Regions from separate parts of the Homo sapiens genome. Here regions 1, 2 and 3 are each linked to region 4. Evidence: fine-mapped expression QTL. A gene starts in region 4. Each other region holds a variant in brackets. All regions are shown on one strand. Distances are from middle to middle. Region 1 overlaps DDX60L (DExD/H-box 60 like). Region 2 overlaps DDX60L (DExD/H-box 60 like). Region 3 overlaps PALLD (palladin, cytoskeletal associated protein). Region 4 holds the start of DDX60L (DExD/H-box 60 like).

Evidence for each region.
Region 1: its variant is fine-mapped to the expression of DDX60L in whole blood (INTERVAL, PIP 0.99).
Region 2: its variant is fine-mapped to the expression of DDX60L in whole blood (TOPMed, PIP above 0.99).
Region 3: its variant is fine-mapped to the expression of DDX60L in whole blood (TOPMed, PIP above 0.99).

The regions. Positions count from the first base shown.
Region 1 is chr4:168,371,911-168,377,013 of GRCh38, reverse strand. DDX60L (DExD/H-box 60 like) reads left to right here. Exons shown (of 38, transcript NM_001012967.3): 34 at 1,490-1,637; 35 at 3,206-3,348. Among named protein-coding and RNA genes, the nearest start is that of DDX60, 56 kb to the right of the region's middle. RefSeq lists an enhancer at 263-432. The variant C/T (reference allele first, on the strand shown) is at 2,865.
Region 2 is chr4:168,413,705-168,418,807 of GRCh38, reverse strand. It overlaps DDX60L (DExD/H-box 60 like), which reads left to right. Exons shown (of 38, transcript NM_001012967.3): 20 at 2,011-2,126; 21 at 3,009-3,151; 22 at 3,291-3,400. Among named protein-coding and RNA genes, the nearest start is that of DDX60L, 64 kb to the left of the region's middle. The variant A/G (reference allele first, on the strand shown) is at 2,557.
Region 3 is chr4:168,502,886-168,507,988 of GRCh38, reverse strand. All of the region lies in intron 1 of PALLD (palladin, cytoskeletal associated protein), which reads right to left. The region is part of intron 1 of LOC107986198 (a long non-coding RNA gene); the gene reads left to right. Among named protein-coding and RNA genes, the nearest start is that of PALLD, 8.4 kb to the right of the region's middle. The variant T/C (reference allele first, on the strand shown) is at 2,777.
Region 4 is chr4:168,478,407-168,483,509 of GRCh38, reverse strand. DDX60L (DExD/H-box 60 like) reads left to right here and starts at 3,018. Exons shown (of 38, transcript NM_001012967.3): 1 at 3,018-3,133. RefSeq lists an enhancer at 2,760-2,999.

The DNA.
Region 1 (5,103 bases), 110 kb after region 4:
CAGCCCACTTTTTATTTTTTAAAACTGATGTATAATTACTCAATGTTCTGTGTGTCACACTAAATCATCTCATGTACCTCTTATATTATGTACCATAATTTGGGATAACTGCTCTATATTAGTCAATTAGCAAAGATTTATTGAGCAATAAATATGTGTAAACTATAGCAAAAATCATGATTGGGAAACATAGTTGCTACCTTCCAAGAGCTTGCTCTCCTGATGGGGCTGTATAGCATACACATTCGAGAAGGTGGCAAACAACACAAGGTGTACATGGTAAGCAGCACGTGCTGCCCTAGAACGGTGTCCAGCAGTGGCACAATGGCAGGACATGGAAGGCATAGCAGTAAAGAGACCATATCACTTTGACCAGAGTGTAGAGCTGCACCTGTCAATTTATTCTTTTGTCTTGGTCCATCCACAGATGGAGCTGAGTCCGAAGTAGGCTTGTGGAAATTGTCATACTATCCACTGTAAGGAGTTGGTAGGGGCATTCTTTATTATGTCCACACGGTTGCCTTTTGTAAGAATCCCCCTGGAAAATTCTTACCTGATATTAGTGCTGAGAATAAATAGCTGTTTATCTCATAGACATTCTGAAATGTGTCATTCACACTTGCTCCTAGGAATCTTGGAATATAATTTGTGCCCCATTTTAGTCTCTTTCTTGTTTTTCTTTCCTTTTTACCAAATTTTGATTTATATGATCATATTGTATTATCTTTACCCTTATAAAATACCTCAATTATTGGAAAAGTACAGGTTATGAATAAATTAAGGAAAATATCAAATAAATAATAAAACCCATAATTGTAACAGAAGAAAACCAAGAACATTTCTAATGTCATAGCTATTTCTAACTCACACTAAAGAAACTTCTAGTCCTAATTCTGAAAGAATTTGTTTTTAAACATGAAATTTGGAAGCTGAGTTAGCTTGCAATACCAGCTACTTCTCTATCTACTACCTGTCAGGTTTGGAACAAGTTTACCTCTGTGAGGGTTAGCTCCCTCATGTACAAAATGTAGATGAAAATGTTTACTGCATAGGGTTGTTCTCAGGATTAACTGAGCTAACATATAACAAGTGCTTGGGGCAGCAAAGCACAGTGTTGGCACATAATCTGAACTCAATAAAGCATTGACGCTACTACTGCTACACTAACTTGTTACTTGCTCTCTAAATATGTCCCTCAAGTCTCTGAAATATACCTAAGTTTAAGATCAGTGTAGGACATGTTTCTATTAAATTGGTGGTTTTGGCTAAGTGGAGTCAAAATAACTTTTTTAAGGAAAGATACTTACATTTATAAATGTTGGTTGAAATCAAAAGGAAATTTTACCTTAATCTCACAGGTGAGTAAAGTAATCAAGGGTTTTGATGAATGAGCATCAATCTACAGAACTATGCTGCAATCTTATCACCAAGCAGTTTAATTTTTTAAATAAAAGTAAAGAGATCTTTCTGAAATGTATTTCGCCCATAGGTGATCCTTGCCGAACTCCCGGAGGATTTTAAAGCTGCTTTATATGAGTATAACCTGGCAGTAATGAAGGATTTTGCCTCCTTCCTGCTGATTGCTTCCAAGTCGGTGAACATGAAAAAAGAGCATCAACTCCCTTTGTCAAGAATCAGTAAGCAGATTTTAGTTCCATTCCGGAACAATTTAAAGAGTAAACAATCTTGGTTAAGAAAGCCTCTGGATATTGGATGCTTCAAAGCTGGTAAAGGAGCTTATTACAGGGCAGCTGTACTAACCCAAGTGTTTTATCCCCAGAAAACAATTTAGCCCATTGTAGGGTGTGATAATGGCTCTGTTTTCCAATTAAAAAAAAACTTTATAATTACCAAATATTAATTGGGCAATGGAGGAAAAAAAATAAAAGTCATTCATGAACCATTTTGATGGAAAGTTGCCTATCTGTTCAGGTTGGAAAACTGGATCAGAAAAAGTGACAGATGAAAAAGAAAACGGCATAATTTCTGGCATTTTTTTCCCCTGAGGGGCAGTTGCATAGTGGTTACAAATGTGAACACTGGCAGCAGAATGCCAAGGTCTAAATCCTGGCTCTGCTACTTATTAACCATGAGGTCTCATGCCAGTTACTTAATCTTTCTGTGTCTCATTTTTTTAATCTGTAAAATGAAATGACTAAAAATATTACCTAGCTTACAGAATTTTAGAGGATTAGGTATATTAATGTTTATAAGTTTCTTAAAACAGTGCATAGCACATAGTCAACATCGCGTAAGTCTATTCTACCCAACATGGTAGCCACCAGCTAGCTACGTGTCACTATTTAAATTAAGTTGATTAAAAATAAAACAATTGAAAAGTTAATTCTTTAGTCACTTTAGCTTTAGTCACGTTAACTTTCCAGTGCTAGTGGCTTCTACTTTGGACACAGTAGAGGTAGAATATTTCCATCATTACGGAAAGTTCTAGCAGACGTTGCAAATATCATTCTTTGCTTCAATTATTTGTTCTTGATTGAGGAGTAACTGGTATTGCAAAGTAACTAAGCTTCCAAATTTCAATTTTATAGCGGGAAACTTTTAGGGGAGAATAAATGGAAAGAAGCTAGACTAAGAGTAAAGAGTGGAGCCATAAAATGATTCCCATATTCCCCTGTCTCCTAATATAGTCATAGTTGGAGTAAAAGACAGGGAGGTAAGCATTGTAGCTACTCAAGATTTGTTGATGTAGGACACAGCATGAGCAAATGCAGACAATAATGGTGGAAGCAAGGAAAGTAGTGCAGAGAAAAGATGATGGGAGTGTGTGATTGTGTCGTGATGGGAAAAACGAGCCAGACCTGAGTGCATGACTTGGTGCCTTCCAAGTCCAGCGAGATGGTACT[C/T]GCTGGACAGAACCTCTGTTTTATCTCTTATGCCAGCTCCAAATCCACTGGTAGGAGCTGCCTGAACATCATGTCTAGGAGGTTTCTGAGGTTATATCTGAGTTCATAGGCAAAAATAACAGGTAATAAAAAAGAGTAATGATAATAAGTTAATAGTCAACATGGATTGAATGATTACTCTGTGCCAAGCTGTGTTAATGACTTTATGCACCATATCTCAATCAGTTTTCATTCTGATGAGATGAATGTCACCTACTGTGGCTTGACCTACAGTGAGTTTGAAAGGGTTAACATTTGGGCTGATTTTTAAAACCTAACGTGACCTAGTCCAAAATGGTCAGAATTCACAGGTAAAGAATGTGAAGACTCCCAACTCGTGTCTCACTTGATGAGCTGCAAGAAAGGAAGAGTAGCCATTTCACCATTTGTTTGTCTTTCGGGGAACACAGATAATGATTTGCTTCGACCAGAGACTATCAACCAGGTAAGTGAAGGATACATCTTATGTACAAAATGTGTTTAACAGACAGAGTGGGGTTACATTGCTGTGAAGCCTTGATAGGACCTCAAACCCAAAACACTGAAAAATGTCCACTGATGAGCATCATTGTCTAAGAGAATGAAGCCCTGGAGGCCAGTGTGATTTATGCTCTATGGAGTTGGCCTGAGAAACCCTGCTTCTTTGTCTAAAATTTCAGACACCACTGTTTTTTCTCATTTTTTTAAATGAGGTTTGCCACAGGTTTGCTGTGGGAAGAGGAAAAGAAAGCGGCTCACATTTTTCTAAAATTGATCATAGACCTCATAGTGCTTTTCTACTCCAGACCACATGGATCTTTGGGGACAGTGGTCTACAAAGGGGGCCACAAAGCATTAGAACCTCTGGGAGGTTCTGGATAAAATATTAGGGTGCTGGAAGATTTTAGATTTAATTTGAAATATGAGAAATAAATTCCACATTGAATATATTTAATAATAAAGATTGACACTGTGCACTGGCTTATTTTATCCCTGGGTCAGAGAGTCACACATCATGTCAAATATGGTCTTCAAGTATTTTTGCATATGTAACGTTTAAAGGAATTTTAAAAAATCGTGAATCTTCTTGCACAGTTTGGGTTGATATCTAAAAATTTTGTTAACCAAAATTTTAATAGCTGCTAATGCAATTTCAGGTTCATTATAAATATTGACATTTTAAAAGAACTGTTAAATTATTTAAAAGTTTATCCAAAAGAATATAGATATCAAAGCTATTTGATACCCAAAGTAAACAAATAGAAAAGAACACAGATGATCAAACAACTTCTTCAAAGTTACAAATTCTACATTATGTATTTTTCTCATTGAACTTTTGTATCTTCCCTTCCCTTCCCTCCCCTCCCCTTCCCTCGACTCCCCTCCCTTTCCCCACTTTTTATTTGTGACAGGGTCTCACTCTCTTGCCCAGGCTGGAGTGCAGTGGCACTATCTCGGCTCACTGCATCCTCAACTTCCGGGGCTCAGGTGATCCTCCCACCTCAGTCTCCCATATACCTGGAACTACACGCACGTGCCAGCATGCCCAGCTAATTTTTTATATTTTTAGTAGAGATGGGTTTTCAGCATATTGCCCAGTCTGATCTTGAACTCCTGGGCCCAAGCAATCCACCCACCTCAGCTTCCCAGAGTGCTAGGATTACAGGCATGAGCCACCATGCCTGGCCTGAACTTGTATTTTTATTCCAACTTGCTCCACAGTTTAATTTTACCCATGCACTGGCAGAATTTGCAGATTCCTTCTGATTCTGTACAGATTAATTTGTCTAATGTGCCCAGAACCACGGAGACTTAGTTTTTGTTTGTTTGTTTTGCTTCTCTTCATTTTCTCCTCTTCTGCCTCCTCCTCTGCCACTTTTTTCTTCTCTCTGGAGCCCAGAGGTTTGTGCTGTTTCATTTTATTCTCCCTGTGAGCACAGGGAGACACTAGCTACATGACACTCCTTTCAAGGTCATTCTGTGCACCAATGAAGATAACGATGAAAATTCTACCTTAAAATCAGCTTCTATTTATTTTTCCTTAGTGAATGTTGCTAACAGTATTGTAGTTGGATGGTTGAAATTGCCTTCAGTATGCTTTGAGAGTTCCTATTTCCCTCAGCGGTGCTGCCCATTCCCGAGGCATGCTTAGTGTCACAGTGGCCAGTGTCTGTAACACGCCCTTTCCCTCACTGTAATGGGCCCTATTTCCCTCAACCCC
Region 2 (5,103 bases), 65 kb after region 4:
GCTGGGTGAGCCAATTCCCAAGGTCAGACTCATTGGCCAGAGAGGAAGGTGGCGAATGGTGTAGATCTGGAAGGACATAGCTATGTTATTATCAAAATGAATGGAAAGAACTGTAAATAGAATTCAAGCTTTGTATTTTGTTGCTTCAAGGAATTTTCAACTTAAAGGAAAACTAGGTGATAAACCTATGTAGTGAATCTACTCCTTTTTTGTGTGAAGTTGAGAGTTGGTAGACATGCTGTCATTCTGCTTTCTTTGTGCTGAAAGTAGTCTGTTTCCTTTTATGCATCAGGCTGTATTGTGTGTTGCTGACTTTGAACATTCCCGTTTTAAGGGAAAACAAAACAAAACAAAAACCTTGATCTTTATGATCTAGAACCTTGGATTGTGGTCTCATCTCAAAATGCCTAAGCACAATAATGTTAAAACATGGGTAATGAGGCCGGGTGTGGTGGCTCATGCCTGTAAACCCAGTACTTTGGGAGGCTGAGGCGGGTGGATCACCTGAGGTCAGGAGTTCGAGACCAGCCTGACCAACATGGTGAAACCCCGTCTCTACTACAAATACAAAAACTATCCAGGCATGGTGGCATGCTCCCGTAATCTCAGCTATTCGGGAGACTGAGGCAGGAAAATCACTTGAACCCGGGAGGCAGAGGTTGCAGTGAGCCAAGATCACACCACTGCACTTCAGCCTGGGCAACAATAACGAAACTCCATCTCAAAACAAAAAACAAAATGTGGGTAACTTTGGTTTTCTGATTTATACATGCACAAAACTTGATTGTAAGAAGGCTTTAAAAATTGTTTATTCTAGAAAGTTCAGAGAAATTGCCTGCTGATACAAAATATAAGATTAGCATTTGGTAAAGTGGGCGATTATCTGACTAGATCAAAGTCAGAAGGGATATGAAAATATTCTTCTTTATGTATTTATTACTAGCCTTGATTAGTAAGTCTTTCCAGCTGAGACCCAATTGTCACGATGTATTCTGTTTAAGACCAAAATTTGGACCTCCTCTCTAAGTCTTAATTTGCATTATTGAACCAAAGAGGATTGATTCATTCATTCAACAGATATTAATTGAGTACCTACTCTGTGCTAGACACTGTGCTTTCTCCCTGATATGCCAGTACTGACCTTGTGGTTTAGTGAAGGGGAGAGCAATTAAATAAGTAAATGTACCAATGAAAATATAAGTAAACATTGTGATACAAACTCTGAAGAAAAAAAAATCAGTTAGTTTTCACCAAGATAATAGCAAAATGGGAAGTAAGAACAACAACTTTGGAGCAGGTACTCAGGGAAGGTGTTTCTGAGGCAATGACCTTCAGCTGGGCTTTGCAGGGATAAGCAGGAATGGTCAGCTAAGAGGTGGATGAGGATTTTAAGTAGCAGGGTCGTATATGTGAAGGCCCTCAGGTGGAACACGTGTGTTCAAGGTATGAAAAGAAGGCCAGTATGTTGGGAGCAGAGTGCATGGCGGGGAAAGTGGCCTGAGATGGGGTTGGAAAGGTGGGAAGAAGCCAGACCATGCAGGAAGTTACACTTCCAGTTAAGCAGCTTGTGGTTTACTGTAAATGCATTGGGAGGACAGTGTAGGGATTTAATTAGGTATGTAGCCTAATTTGATTTTTGTTTAATAATACCATTAGGGCTATGATGTGAAGAAAGTATAGAGAAAGAGTGGAAGCTAAGAGAAAAATCAGAAGGCTGTTGTAGAAAGCCAGGTGATGGTGGCTTCAATGACAACAAAAAATGGAGAGAAAAACATAGCTTCAAAATAGATTTTTGGAATTGGAATCTGTAGGAATTAATAATGGTTTCGATATGGAGATTGGAGACAGTTAAGTGTCATGATGTCTATTGTCTGAATTTATCACCATTCACTTTATTTAGGTTAGGTCATTTATAGGAAACTGGAAAAATATGCATGATGATTTTATGCTTCTATTTTTTATTTACGATTTTGACATCAACTTTTCAACTGATTTTTTTTTCTTTACTAGGTCCATTATCTTGGCAGAGAAGTTGGAGCAAAATTTTGGGAGCTCCTCCTTGTCATTATTCGATGTCCCTTTTTGGTTCTTTCAGCTACCATAAATAACCCAAATCTTCTCACCAAGTAGGTATAGGTAAAAAGAGTGGTTGTTATATATTCAGTGGTTGAATTATATACTGTCTATATGGTCTGAAGTCTTTAAGGTTTTTTCTATGATAACTTTCAAATAAATTTATTACCCAATCTTTGAAACGTCAGTGGTCTTGCTTTGTTGCCCAGGCTGGCCTTAAACTCCTGGGCTGAAGGAATCCTCCCACCTCAGCCTCCTGAGTAGCTGGGACCACAGGTGTACATTACCATGTCTGGCTTTCTCAAATTTTTTTGAAGATATATTTCCTGGAAGTTAGAGAAGGAAAACATCTTCTCCAAAGAAAATCAAGGTCTCCCATAGCCAGATCTGAAATTGTGCAGGACAATTTCTAAAAATTTTCAAGTAAATGTCATCTGAAGTAAGAGAGAGAATTGTATCCCCCTTTCTTTGTCCTTATCCAAT[A/G]ATTAAAGCTAAAATGGAAATAACTGGGACACAGTCATTGACCTTGCAGATGACAATCATAAGAACAACAAAGCATTATATGAACGTCAAGTATTGTTTTGTTACCAGACTTGATTTTTCCTGGTAACAGCGACGATGGCAGTAACAGCAGCACTGGTAACAAGCACACAGTGCTTTCTATGTGGCAGGCACGCTAACTCATTCAAGCCACGCAACACCCTTATGAGAAAGATACTTTCGTTATCTTCTATGTTATGATGGAGAAAGGGAGGCATAGAGAAGCTGAGGAATTTGCCCAAAGTCCACAGCTCTGAAGTCAACTCAGGTGGTTTAAATTGAGAGGGCATGCTCTAAATTTTTAAACTTGTGAAATTTTCTTTGTTTAAAATATCCAAGTTCTTGATAAATACTTCTATATTTTATTTAAATTATATGCATGTTTATTCTGTAAGGTGGCTGCAATCAGTAAAACAGTACTGGAAACAGGCAGACAAGATTATGGAAGAGAAATGTATTTCTGAAAAACAGGCTGACAAATGTCTCAACTTTCTCCAAGACCATTCATATAAAAATCAATCATATGAAGTTAGACTTGGTAAGCTTATTTTTTTTATGTTTTACTATATATTTTTATATTTTACTACAAAGCTTTTTATAGGGATTTTTGTGTTTTAAATCCATATTCTAATAATCGTATGTCCATTAATTTGGATATTCTTGCTCTTCGTATCTAGTGCTCTGTGGAGAGAGATACAATGATTTAGAGAAGCATATATGTTCAGTAAAACATGATGATGTTTATTTTGATCATTTTCATCCCTGTGCTGCGCTAACGACAGATATTGTAAGTATAAAAGTGTATTTGTCCTGTTAGTGGAATTTTTAGTGTATATCGCAACTGGAAAGGGACTCAATCTTCATAGAACTGCAGCATGTATAGATAATCTTTTTCTTTCTTTACTGATTCTTTTATTTTATTCATTGATTTTTTAAATTTAATACATTTTTTATTTTTAATTTTGTGGGCATCTAAAGTAGCTGTATATATGGGGCACATGAGATATTTTGATACAGACATGCAATGCATAATAACCACGTCAGACTAAATGAGGTATGTATCCACTACCTCAAGCATTTATCCTTTAATGGATACACAATGGTAATTATGTATCCATTACCTCAAGCATAATAACCACATCAGACTAAATGAGGTATGTATCCATTACCTTAAGCACAATCCAATTCTACTCTTTTAGTTATTTTAAAATATACAATAAATTACTGTTAGCTATAATCCCTCTGTTGTGCTATCACATACTAGATCTTATTTATTCTATCTATTTTTTTGTGCTCATTAACCATTCCCTCTTCCACCCAACCCACTGTCTTTGCTAGCCTCTGGTAACCATCACTCTACTCTCTGTCTCCATGCATTCCATTGTTTTAATTTTTAGCTCCCACAGATAAGTTAGAACACGTGAAGTTTTTCTTTCTGTGCCTGGCTTATTTCACTTAACATAGTGACATCCAATTCCATCTATGTTGTTGCAAACGATAGGATCTTATTTTTTTTTATGGCTGAATGGTATTCCACTGTTTTTAAGTGCCACATTTTCTTTATTCATTAATTTGTTGATGGGCACTTAGGTTTCTTCCAAATCTTGGCTATTGTGAATGGCGCTGCAATAAACATGAGAGTCCGGATACCTCTTTGATATACTGATTTCCTTTTTTTTAAGTATATATGTAGCAGTGGTATTGCTGGATCATAAGGTAGCTCTAGTTTTAGTTTTTTGACTTTTTGTTGTTTCTATTAATATCTTATTGTATTGTCTGTCTTGAAAAGTTGCTGTGGCTGTAATTTGTGATAGGTTCATTGTTTTGTCTTTCTACTGAAGATATACTCATATCACAATTACAATGTTATAATATTCTGTGTTTTTCTGTGTACTTACTAGTAAGTTTTTTTACCTTCAGGTGGTTTCTTAATGCTCATTAACATCCTTTTCTTTCCCACTGAAGAACTCCCTTTAGCACTTCTTGTAGGACAGGTGTTGCTGAAATCTCTTAGCTTTTGTCTGAGGAAGTCTTTATTTCTCCTTCATGTCTGAAGGATATTTTCACTGGATATACTATCCCATGATAAAAGATTTTTTCCTTCAGCCCTTTATGTCATGCCACTCTCTTCTGGCCTGTGAGGTTTCCACTGAGAAGTCTGCTGCCAGACATATAGGAGCACCATTGTGTTATTTGTTTCTTTTCTCTTGCTGCTTTTAGGATCCTTTCTTTATTCTTGACCTTTGGGAGTATGATTATTAAATGTCTTGAGATAGTCTTCTTTGGGTTAAATCTGCTTGGTGTTCTATATCTTCTTGTATATGAGTATTGGTATATTTCTCTAGGTTTGGGAAGTTTTCTGTTATTATCCCTTTGAATAAACTTTCTCCTCACTCTAGGGGTTTTAAGCCCCTTTAAGGCCAATAAATCTTAGATTTGCCCTTTTGAGGCTATTTTCTATATCTTACAGGAATGCTTTTATCATTTTTA
Region 3 (5,103 bases), 24 kb before region 4:
GAATGATGTGTGAGGGATGAGGAAGAGCGGGGAGGTGAAGAGGATACTGGCAAATATGTATTTTAAGACTTGGATCCCAGAGAGCACATGGCAGACTCAGGTAATTCTACTAAGCATTTCAGCTAAACAGAAATCTATCTGGAGATGGGAAAATAACCAGAGATAAGGCTAGAAAGCAGGAGTTAGGTCAGAGAGGGCCTGGAGCCATGCAGAGAACTTGCATTTTATGTTATGGGTAGTCAGTAGGCAAGGAAGAGTGTTAAGTCCTTGAGAAACATCACCAGACTTACATTTTTGAGAGATAACTGATTGCAGTCTGGATCCGGGACAGAGGTAGGGAAAGAGGAAGACAAGACTGACAGTAGGGCGGTCCGTGAGAAGGCTTGTGCAGTAATCCAGGGGGTGCACACATTTATCATGGTTTCACGTTTGGTGTTGCTGTCATCTGGACGTCTTCATTTTGGAGAATTCCTCATATTCTGAGGCTCAGTGAGAAACTGAACTCACTTGTAATGGGATGTGAAATCTCCAAGTATTTTCTTTCCCAGCCGCTTGGAGACTGGGCACAAGTCTTGGCACTTGGCCTAGACAGCGATTAGATGTGTCCTTCTTGGACTCTGAAGTGAGAGCTGGTGATTCAGGGAAGCAGTGGGTCCAGGGTCCATAAGATAGATGATAGAAAGGAAAGAACTTGGTAATTGATTAAAGGCAGAGGTGATGCAGAGGCAGGGTTACAGGTTTCTCACCTCAACAACCAGATGACTGGTACCATTAACTTACATGCTACAAGTGGAGGAACAAGTTTTTTTATTTTATTTTATTTTATTTTTTAAGCTTGATTTTGATTTGAGCCTTTTGCAGTTGAGGGACCTTTGGTAACTCTGGTGTTGATGTCTAGGAGATTTGAGATGCTGATCTAGAGCCCAGGAGAAGGGAGAACAGAGCTGGATTGGGGATTATTAGCCTATGGGTGGCACTTTAAGACATGGGAATGCATAAGGTCATCGAGGAAAAAAGAAGGAGAAGATAGAATCCTTCGAATAATCACAGGGAAGCAAGAAAAGCTAGATATCGTGGAAGCTGGGAAAGAAAATATCTCAGGAAGCAGTACATGTCCTTTTGATTTTTGATTTTAGCAACTTGGGAATATTTAGCACCATTGCAACAGCACTTTCGGTGTATGCAACAGAAATATAAGCCAGATTGCTACATGGAAGGAAAGGAAAGAAGGAAAGAAAGAAAATATTACAGGTGTGGTGGTTTGTTTTGAAAAGATCATAGAAAGAAGGAGAGACAGAAGGTAGTAGTTGAACAAAAGTATAGACTCTGGTGAGGTTTGTTCATTTTTAGGATAGAGCGCTGTAACATGTTTTATACAAACCAAATTAGGCAGTAAGAAGGGAGAAGCTGAAAATAAATGTAAAAAAGCGGGGATGATTTATAGGTCAGCTCTCAAAAGATGTAAGAAGAAATGAGTTATTATAGGACAAACGGAGTATGAGGTGTTCAGCTTCCAGTAGGAAGGGGGCAGTTCTTTCATTGTTAAAGGAGAGAAGTAACAAAGGGTGTATGTGTGTTGGGGCATGGGGGGCGGTAAGAGAGAAAGGGAGAGAGAGAGAAACATGAGATTCTCTGCAAAATTTGTAATAGAAAGAAAGGAGAGTTCCCAAACTGAGACTTCTGTGCATTGGAGGTTTATGAGGACAGAAGATGATTTGAAATAGCTGTTGTAGAAAAAGGGGGAAGGAAGTTTTGTAAGAAGGATTTATGGGTAGAGGTGAGGGCCTGGTTGAAGTTAGATGTGATGTATTTATAGTGTCATTAATCTGTGTGATTGTGCAATTCTCTCCACCAGAGCTCAGCCATCCAGGTGAAGGTACAGAGATAGATGATCCCAGTTTGACATGCAGGTAAAATGGGAGGGAAGTGGGCAAGGCCATTGAAAATATGGTCAAGGAATAGGTGGCCTTTGACATATATGCTGGGTTGGAATTCATGGGTAGGAGTTTGAATGTAGAGATTGTCTTTGTTTTTTTGAACCAATGTCAGAGTTGAGTAGTTGCAACAGAGACTATATGGCACATGAAGTCTAAAATATTTACCTGCACTTTTACAGGAAAAAATTGCCAACCCCTTCTATAGAACATTAGCTACCTAATGACTTCATATAACACATATAAAGGCAATTAATGATCACGATGATTGATAATGATAATGGCTAATAATGGACTGCTTACCCTGCGGTGGGCATTGTGCCCAGAGTCATCATGTAGATTATTTCATTTAAAACCCTCACAGCAGCCTCTGGTTTAGAAAGGAGGAAATGGAGGCAGAAAATCTGAGTGGGAGAACCAAGGTTTAAGCCCAGGGAATAACTCCAGAGCTCATGTTCTATGCACTTTACCATCTTACCATTGTAGTTTTCATAATTGAGAATCCTAAGCAATGTATCAAACTAACAAAACTGTGGATCAGAAATCAGAGTTCTGCTATTAATTCAATTGCTTTTTAGTTCCAAATGAACATAATATGATACATTTTAAAACTTCACAAGGAGCATTATATAACAAAGCTTAAAGCAAACTTCTGAATGATGAAAACATTTTCAATTCTTAATGTAGGGAGTGTTTGCTGGAGGCAGATTATCTCACCTGCTTATTAACTCATATTTTGGTTTTAAAGAGGCGCCATCTGACAGGATCCAGTAGTCAGGATTAGGTGTAGCTTTAAAACTGCTTGCACATTGAAAAAGAAAATAATAGTTCTATGGCATATC[T/C]GGTTCAGGCTTAATTTGCAAGCCAGTTATTGCCGCGGGAACATGCACGTGGTCTAGGGAAAATGCTCATTCAATGAGGATGAACAAGGGCGGTTTCCAAGCGGGCCAAGTTCACTGGAAAATTGTGCTTCAGAGATTTCCATGTCAGTCAGCACTCCAAAATGAAAAGGTCAAAATCAAAAGGAATGAAACACAATCACAAACATCTCCATCATTTGCCTGAGATTTCATGTTTTCTGTCAAACAGTGCTCTTGGTAATTCTATGCCGGTGTGATAGACACAGAAGATGAAATAGACTAAAAAGACCCACTAATACTGCTGTTAATGAGTGAAGAGGAAATGAGGTAAACACCAACGCCATTAAAGTGGTTCTACTTTAGTAAGTAGCATTGAAAGATTTTGAAATTTTGAAGAATAAAGGATTCTTTGGCATCTTTAAATTGTCCTGTCCCCTGCCTCCTCACTTTTCTCAGAAGGAATCTGAATTTCCTAGAAATTCTTCTGTCTTCTTCTTTTTCTCATCCTTGTCTTATCCATCATCTCCAGCTTTAGCAGTTTAGCTTAATTGTCATTTTCCCTAAAACGCTCATTAGCCACAGCCATTTTTTTTTTTTTTTTGAGTTGGAGTCTTGCTTTGTCGCCCAGGCTGGAGTGCAGTGGCATGATCTCAGTTCACTGCAAGATCCACCTGCCGGGTTCAAGAGATTCTCCTTCCTCAGTCTCCCGAGTAGCTGGGGCTACAGGTGCCTGCCACCACTCCCAGCTGATTTTTGTATTTTTAGTAGAGACAGGGTTTCACCATATTGGCCAGGCTGGTCTTGAACTCCTGACCTTGTGATCTGCCCACCTTAGCCTCCCAAAATGCTGGGATTACAGGTGTGAGCCACCATGCCTGGCCAACCACAACTGTTTTTTAATTTGCTTGAAGTTGCGTAGCATTATGTTCTTCACCATGGAGGAAATGACTCTTCCTTGGCCTCGCCCATCTTACAGTCATGCTTCCTTTCTTCTACTTCCCTTTCCTGGAATAGTAAGTTGAACATGAAATCAACGGAACAACTGCTTAGTTGTGCAAGAGAAGCTTCAAGGAGGACAAAGATGAGGCAGGCGTAGTTATTCTCCTTAAATGATCTTACAATCCAGTAGGAGGGATTAGACAAGAGTAAAAAATAACTCAGTTACAAGGAGGAGCGTGATAATTTCTATTAAAATAGTTTCAACAAATTGCAGTAAGGGATAAAAATGGTAAGAGAGATCATAGGTACAAATTGTGTCACGTCACTCTTTTGGTTTTTATTTTTTTCCTATGATGCTCCCCGGCTGATGAGAAAAGTTCCAAAGCACGATGTGCAGGTTAAACATACCCGTGGACAGCCTGAGCTGATGGAAATGCTCCAGCCTCACCCTCTGTCATCACCAACACACATGCACTCAGGCCTCCCTGGCCCACTCACCATTCCTCAAACAATTCAGATTCTTTCTGGTTTTCACACCTTTGCACTTGCTGCTCCTTTTGCTTAAAATGTGCTTCCTTTCTCTTTTTCTTTTTCTTTTTTTTTTTTTTTGAGATGGAGTCTCGCTCTGTTGCCCAGGCTGGAGTGCAGTGGCTCCATCTTGGCTCACTGCAACCTCCGCCTCCCAGGTTCACACCATTCTCTTGCCTCAGCCTCCTGAGTAGCTGGGACTACAGGCGCCCACCACCATGCCCGGCTAATTTTTGTATTTTTAGTAGAGACAGGGTTTCCCCTTGTTAGCAGGATGGTCTCGATCTCTTGACCTTGTCATCCACCCGCCTTGGCCTCCCAAAGTGCTGGGATTACAGGCATGAGCCACTGCATCCAGCCCTCTTTCTGTTTTTCAAACTCCGGTTCATCCTTGAAAACTTTCTTAAATTTTACCACTTTTTGGTGCTTTCTAACAGTTCCCCAATCAATATAATTTGCTTCTTCTTCCAAGCATGTTACTTTGCATTGCGTTTCTCACAGCAGTCATCATATTAAATTACAAGTATTTGTTTAGAGAATGCTTTCCTCATTCAACTGTGAGCCCAATGGAAGCAGGAGCTGTGACTGGCGTCTTTGTATGGCAAATGCTTAGCACACTGGGTTACAGCAGCTGATGGAGAAAAGCTAAGAAATACCGGGTGTTTGAAATGTGGTTTGAGCCCTGGATAGGATTTGACACACATGTGAACAAAGGCACGAGGCAGGAAATGTTCTGATGACTGATTTGCTTTCAGCCTCCCAGAACCTGCTGCGACATTTCTCTGGGACATGCTCTCTTCAGCTAAGTGTTATTCTGCTCTTTTGAGTGAGGGTCTCATTCT
Region 4 (5,103 bases):
TCAATTCCATATGCAAAATGAGCCATTCCAAGGTCCCCCCAAAGTCCTAATCTATTGTAGTATCAACTTAAGTCCAAAAATCCCATCTAAATCTCATCTGCTGAAAAGACCTAAATGATTAAATCAGGTATAGTTGAGACTTTGGGTATGAACCATCCTGAGGCAAAATTTCTCTCCATATGTGAAGCTTTAAGACTAGAAAACAAGTTATTTGCTCCAAAAATACAATGGTGGAACAGGAATAGGGTACCAGTTACAGATATTCCTGTTCACAAAGGGAGAAAATGGAAGGAGAAAAAGCCAAGAAATTTCAAAAATCTGCAAGGCTAACTCCATAGGTTTTAAGGCCTGTGAATAACCATTTGTGTCTCTAGGCTCTGCCCTCAGAGTCATCCTTCATGAAAGATAGCACAAGTTTGGGGCTGAATAGTTTTATCAGACTGTTTATTGCTTATGGAATTTTGGGAGTCCTATAACCGTCTTTCATTTTATTCTCTCTCTGTACCTTTCAGTTCAAGCTGGCAGTGTTTCTGCTGATATTCTCAGAAATCTTTTGGATTTCCTGTGTATGTCACAGAGATCTTTTTGAAGCACTAGCAAAAGGTTGTCCAGCTGTACTCATGACTTTTTCTCCAGAGTACGTTTTCCCAGCAGTGAGTCTCTTACTTTTACCATCCTTTGCAGTCTTGAAATCCTGATAATTTCCCACATTATCCTTGTCCTGGTTCCTTTTTGATAATAGTCCTTCCCTCTTATAAGGACCCTTCTGATTATATCAGGTCCCCAGATAATCCAGGGTAATTTCCCCATCTCAAGATTCTTAGGAATATCTGCAAAGTTCTTTTTGCAACAGAAGATGACATATTTATAGGTACAAGGATTAGGACATAGATGTCTTTGGGAGACCATTATTCAGTCTACCACAGCTGTAAATAGAGAGAGGTTAACAATATAGGAATGGAGTGAGATTCCTGAGGAAGCTGGAGGTAACCAACTCAAAAGGGAGTGGTTATATTGTATGTGGAGCATGTCATGGGCTTCTTGGACTAGATGGAGGTGTCAGACAGTTAAAAGGAGTCTCTTTAAAACAGATATATTCTTAGTGGACTTGAAGAGAACAGCAAGATGCTGTAGGGTTTTAAGGGCCACTGTAAAAAAGATCAGGAACCTATAGTCATAAACAGTAAATCTGAGGTGAAAAATATTAGACAATTTCCTTCAATGTCCTGGTAAGGGCAAAAAATGGTTTACTAGATTGAGGTGATCAAGTTGCAGTGAAGGTGCAGAGGAAAGAGAGTGGATGAAGCAGTTGAGAATGTTAGTGAGAGGAAGGTTCAGTGCCTGTTCACAGAGTTGATCCTGGGGAGGTGAAAGAGTGGGGCTCCTAAGGAGACTGAGAGATTGAGGCAAGGGGGAAGTCTCTAAAAAGTGGAAATGGAGTTTATGATTTTCAAGTTTCTGGATAATGTCCAGGCTGGAGTTATGGTAACATATTATTAAAGTGGAAGAGAACTGGATATTGATTTGGAGTAGAGTCTGCTTATGTGCATTGTACATATACTTTGCGGTGGGAAGTGGGATGTGTGGAGTTAACATCTAGGGAATCCCCACCTGATACATCTATATCTTTAAGAGAGAAAAACAACAGCAGACAGTCAATTATATTAAGAACATGTAGGGCCCACTTCTACAACCAAAAGAGGAAATCCCCATTAAATTGTATGTGCTTTGGGGGAGGAATAATGACACTGTAGTATTTAAAAGAACTGGAATGAGATAATATATACAGAGAATATTGTAGATATTATCTTTGGAATTAAATTTTGAAGTCTTGGCTACCATTAACTACCTGTAGGGTCATCGACAAGTAATTGAATTCTCTAAGCCTTATTTACCTCATCCATAAAATAGCAACAGTAAAGTTGCTCATGGGATTTCTGTGAGATTTAATGTGATAATACATGTTAAGGGCTTAGCCTATTGCCTGGCACATAAAAAGCTCAATGAATGCTTTTACAGCAAAGCCCAATTTTCTGCTGCTAGCAAATGCATTCTTATGATACAAAGGTCCAGTATCAGATGCTAGAGAGGAATTCATCTGAGATGAACTCATGACTTAATCATGAGTCATTTCAGGTTCTTTCTCAATGTCATCCTCATTGAGAAAGAGAATCATAACTATTTTCAACCAAACATAAAATTAAAGAAAAATCCTGACAGAAGTGAGCAATGTTTTCACCTCCTTTTCGAAGCCACTTTATATTCCAGAGTCTGAGAAAAAACTTTGTTCTTCTGGGCTCTTTCTATTGTGAACAAGTCACTTCCACCCTTTCCTTTTCTTGAAGACAGAACTTCCGGTTTCGATTTCTCTCCATTTATTACCCCATGCCGTTACTGGGGCACCCTCACCACCACCTTGAATCTCAATATATTCTGCACATGCATAACGTCATGGAATTAAGCGTCTGGAGCACTAAAGACCATGATGGGCTGGGGTTGAAACTCGAATTTCAAACATTAATGAGCTTGATGACAAAACTAAAGAGCATTCTTCTTCTCAATTTAAATTCTCTGTGATAGATGATTGGTCTTTCAAATGTTCACACTGGACAGTTATACTATTGGAAATTTTTCATAAAATGAACTTCTTAGGACAGAAACTCAAAGCCCCTAATCCTTTTTTACTCCATTTTTGCCTGTCCAGTACCTTGCCAGAAAAGAAAAACGCCACACCTCACCGCAGACTTTCATAGTGCTTAGCGTGCTGCATTTACTCTCAGCCTCAATTCCTTGTTTAGAGTCCCAGATTTCTCTGCTTTCTTTCCCTTTACAATTACATGCATGTCCCAGATAGCATATCATCGCTTCTACTATTACTTCCCTAAGATTCTCAGAGTAAACCAATGCAGACCTATATTCTACCTCCAGAAAACTGCGGAAATCGAAAAGGCCTCGCGGTGGAGAAAAGAAACCGAAACTAACTCCCTAGATAAAAACTCAGGCGCTGGCTGCTGTGTGGCTCAGAGCGCCCAGTCCGACGCCAGGCTCTGCGCTCGGTCTCCTCTGCTCCACCTCCTCCCCGCGGGGCGTGCAGCTCCGAAGCTCTTTGGACCTAGCAGGTTCGGCGGCCGGGGTGAGGATTGCGGGTGACGTCGGGTGTCGCTAGGGACCCTGGAGCGGAGCTGTCCCGCGGGGGTTCTAGGATTCCTTCAACATCCAGATGGACCGGGCGGGGAGGTGGCCTGGTGGCTTCGTGCGCGCCGGGCGAGGGAAGCTGGGGCGCCCACTGGGCTCGGGCGGCAGCTTCGCGGAGAGGTAGGGAAGAGGGACAACCACCGTGAGAGAGGAGAGTGCTCAGGCATTTAACGGGTCCTCTGCACCCGAGGGGGCCTGGGGATCTGGGGTGCTGAGGAGAAAGTAAGGGTCACCACATCTGAGCACAGCCATTCGAACCTGGACATTGACAGGCAGCAAGCCGCTTCCCTTTTTTCCGTCTTGTATTTAAGCTTTTTTTTTTTTTTTTTTTTTGAGTCAGTCTCGCTCTGTCGCCCAGGCTGGAGTGCAGTGGCGTTATCTCTGCTCACTGCAACCTCCACCTTCCGGGTTCACGCTATTCTCCTGCCTCAACCTCCCGAGTAGCTGGGACTACAGGCACCCGCCACCACGCCCGGCTAATTTTTTTTTATTTTTTATTTTTTATTTTTAGTAGAGACGGGGTTTCACCATGTTAGGCCAGGATGGTCTCGATCTCCTGACCTCGTGACCCGCCCGCCTAGGCCGCCCAAAGTGCTGGGATTACAGGCGTGAGCCACCGCGCCCGGCCGGATTTAAGCTCTTAATAGCGGAAATAAGGTTTTACTATTTCTCTGGAAAGGTACTTTGTTCTTTTTTCCCGCTTCTCTTTTGTTTACAAAGTTACATTGATAAATTTATAATAAACTTCTCAAGGTTTTCCATAATCAAAGAAGCTGACATCATCCGTGATGGGGCCTTAAGGATTATGAAAGCTCCTAATGACTGCTAGAAAAAGCGGTCAGAACCAAACAGAAGCAAGTCCTTTAAAGACACAATAAGAAGTCCAAACCATAACATCAACGACATACAGACCTTCATGATTTCGAGTGTTCTCCTGAAAACAGTAACATACCATTCAATCTAAGATTTGCAGTTTGAAGTTTGGTGGAACTCAGGTGCTGAGAGTTGAGGGTACTAAAATAAATGAGGGTGAGTTATGCTTCCAAGGCTCTTCGCCTTCTATCCCAAAGATATTGGGGATAGTTTAGTGTGAATCCTTCCTGATACTCTACAAAGAGACAAGTTTTTGTCTATAGCTCCTATCTCTCTATCCATCCATCCATCCATCCATCCATCCATCCATCCATCCATCATCCAGCCATCCAACCATCCGTCCATCCATCGATCCATCATCTGTCTATCTCTAGATCCATACACTTTAAAAGATATTTTGGCTGTCATACTGGTATGCTTTTCTTGGTTCATGATTTATTGGTACCTGTCAGTCTTACTTAGTAATTGCTGTATGATACCCCATGGTATGCTGGGTCATAATTGATCAGTTTTATTTGAAGCAGAAGAGAAAGACATAAAACAAAAATTAAATGCCCTTCTCTACTACTTTCCCCTTCATACTTAGTCTCACAGTTTTAGTTCTCCTGAGGCGTTACCACTCCAAAGATATACATTTCTTTCTTGGTTGCTTATAAATTATATGCTTACAAATCAGTCTTTTGTTTTATCTACTTTAGACAGACTCCGACGACTCCCTGTGAAAGAAATACTTCTAATATGAATTATATATTTTTAAAAATTCTTCTCAGGATTAGCTTTATGGCTTTTAATAAAATACCCATGTTAATTATCATCCACGGCTATGTTGATGTGGGTGGAAATCTCTGTGGTTTTCCCTGCTGCAGGCTCATTTTCTGCTTTGTAAGTATGGAGACCTGCTGGTTGATTTACTGATATCACCCTTTTTTATAACCTGCTGCTTGTTTTACTGATGTAACCATTTTTAAGGCAGCTCATAGTTTATTTGGAAATACAATTCTCTAAGAAATGTATCCAGCTTCTTATGCTCTAGTT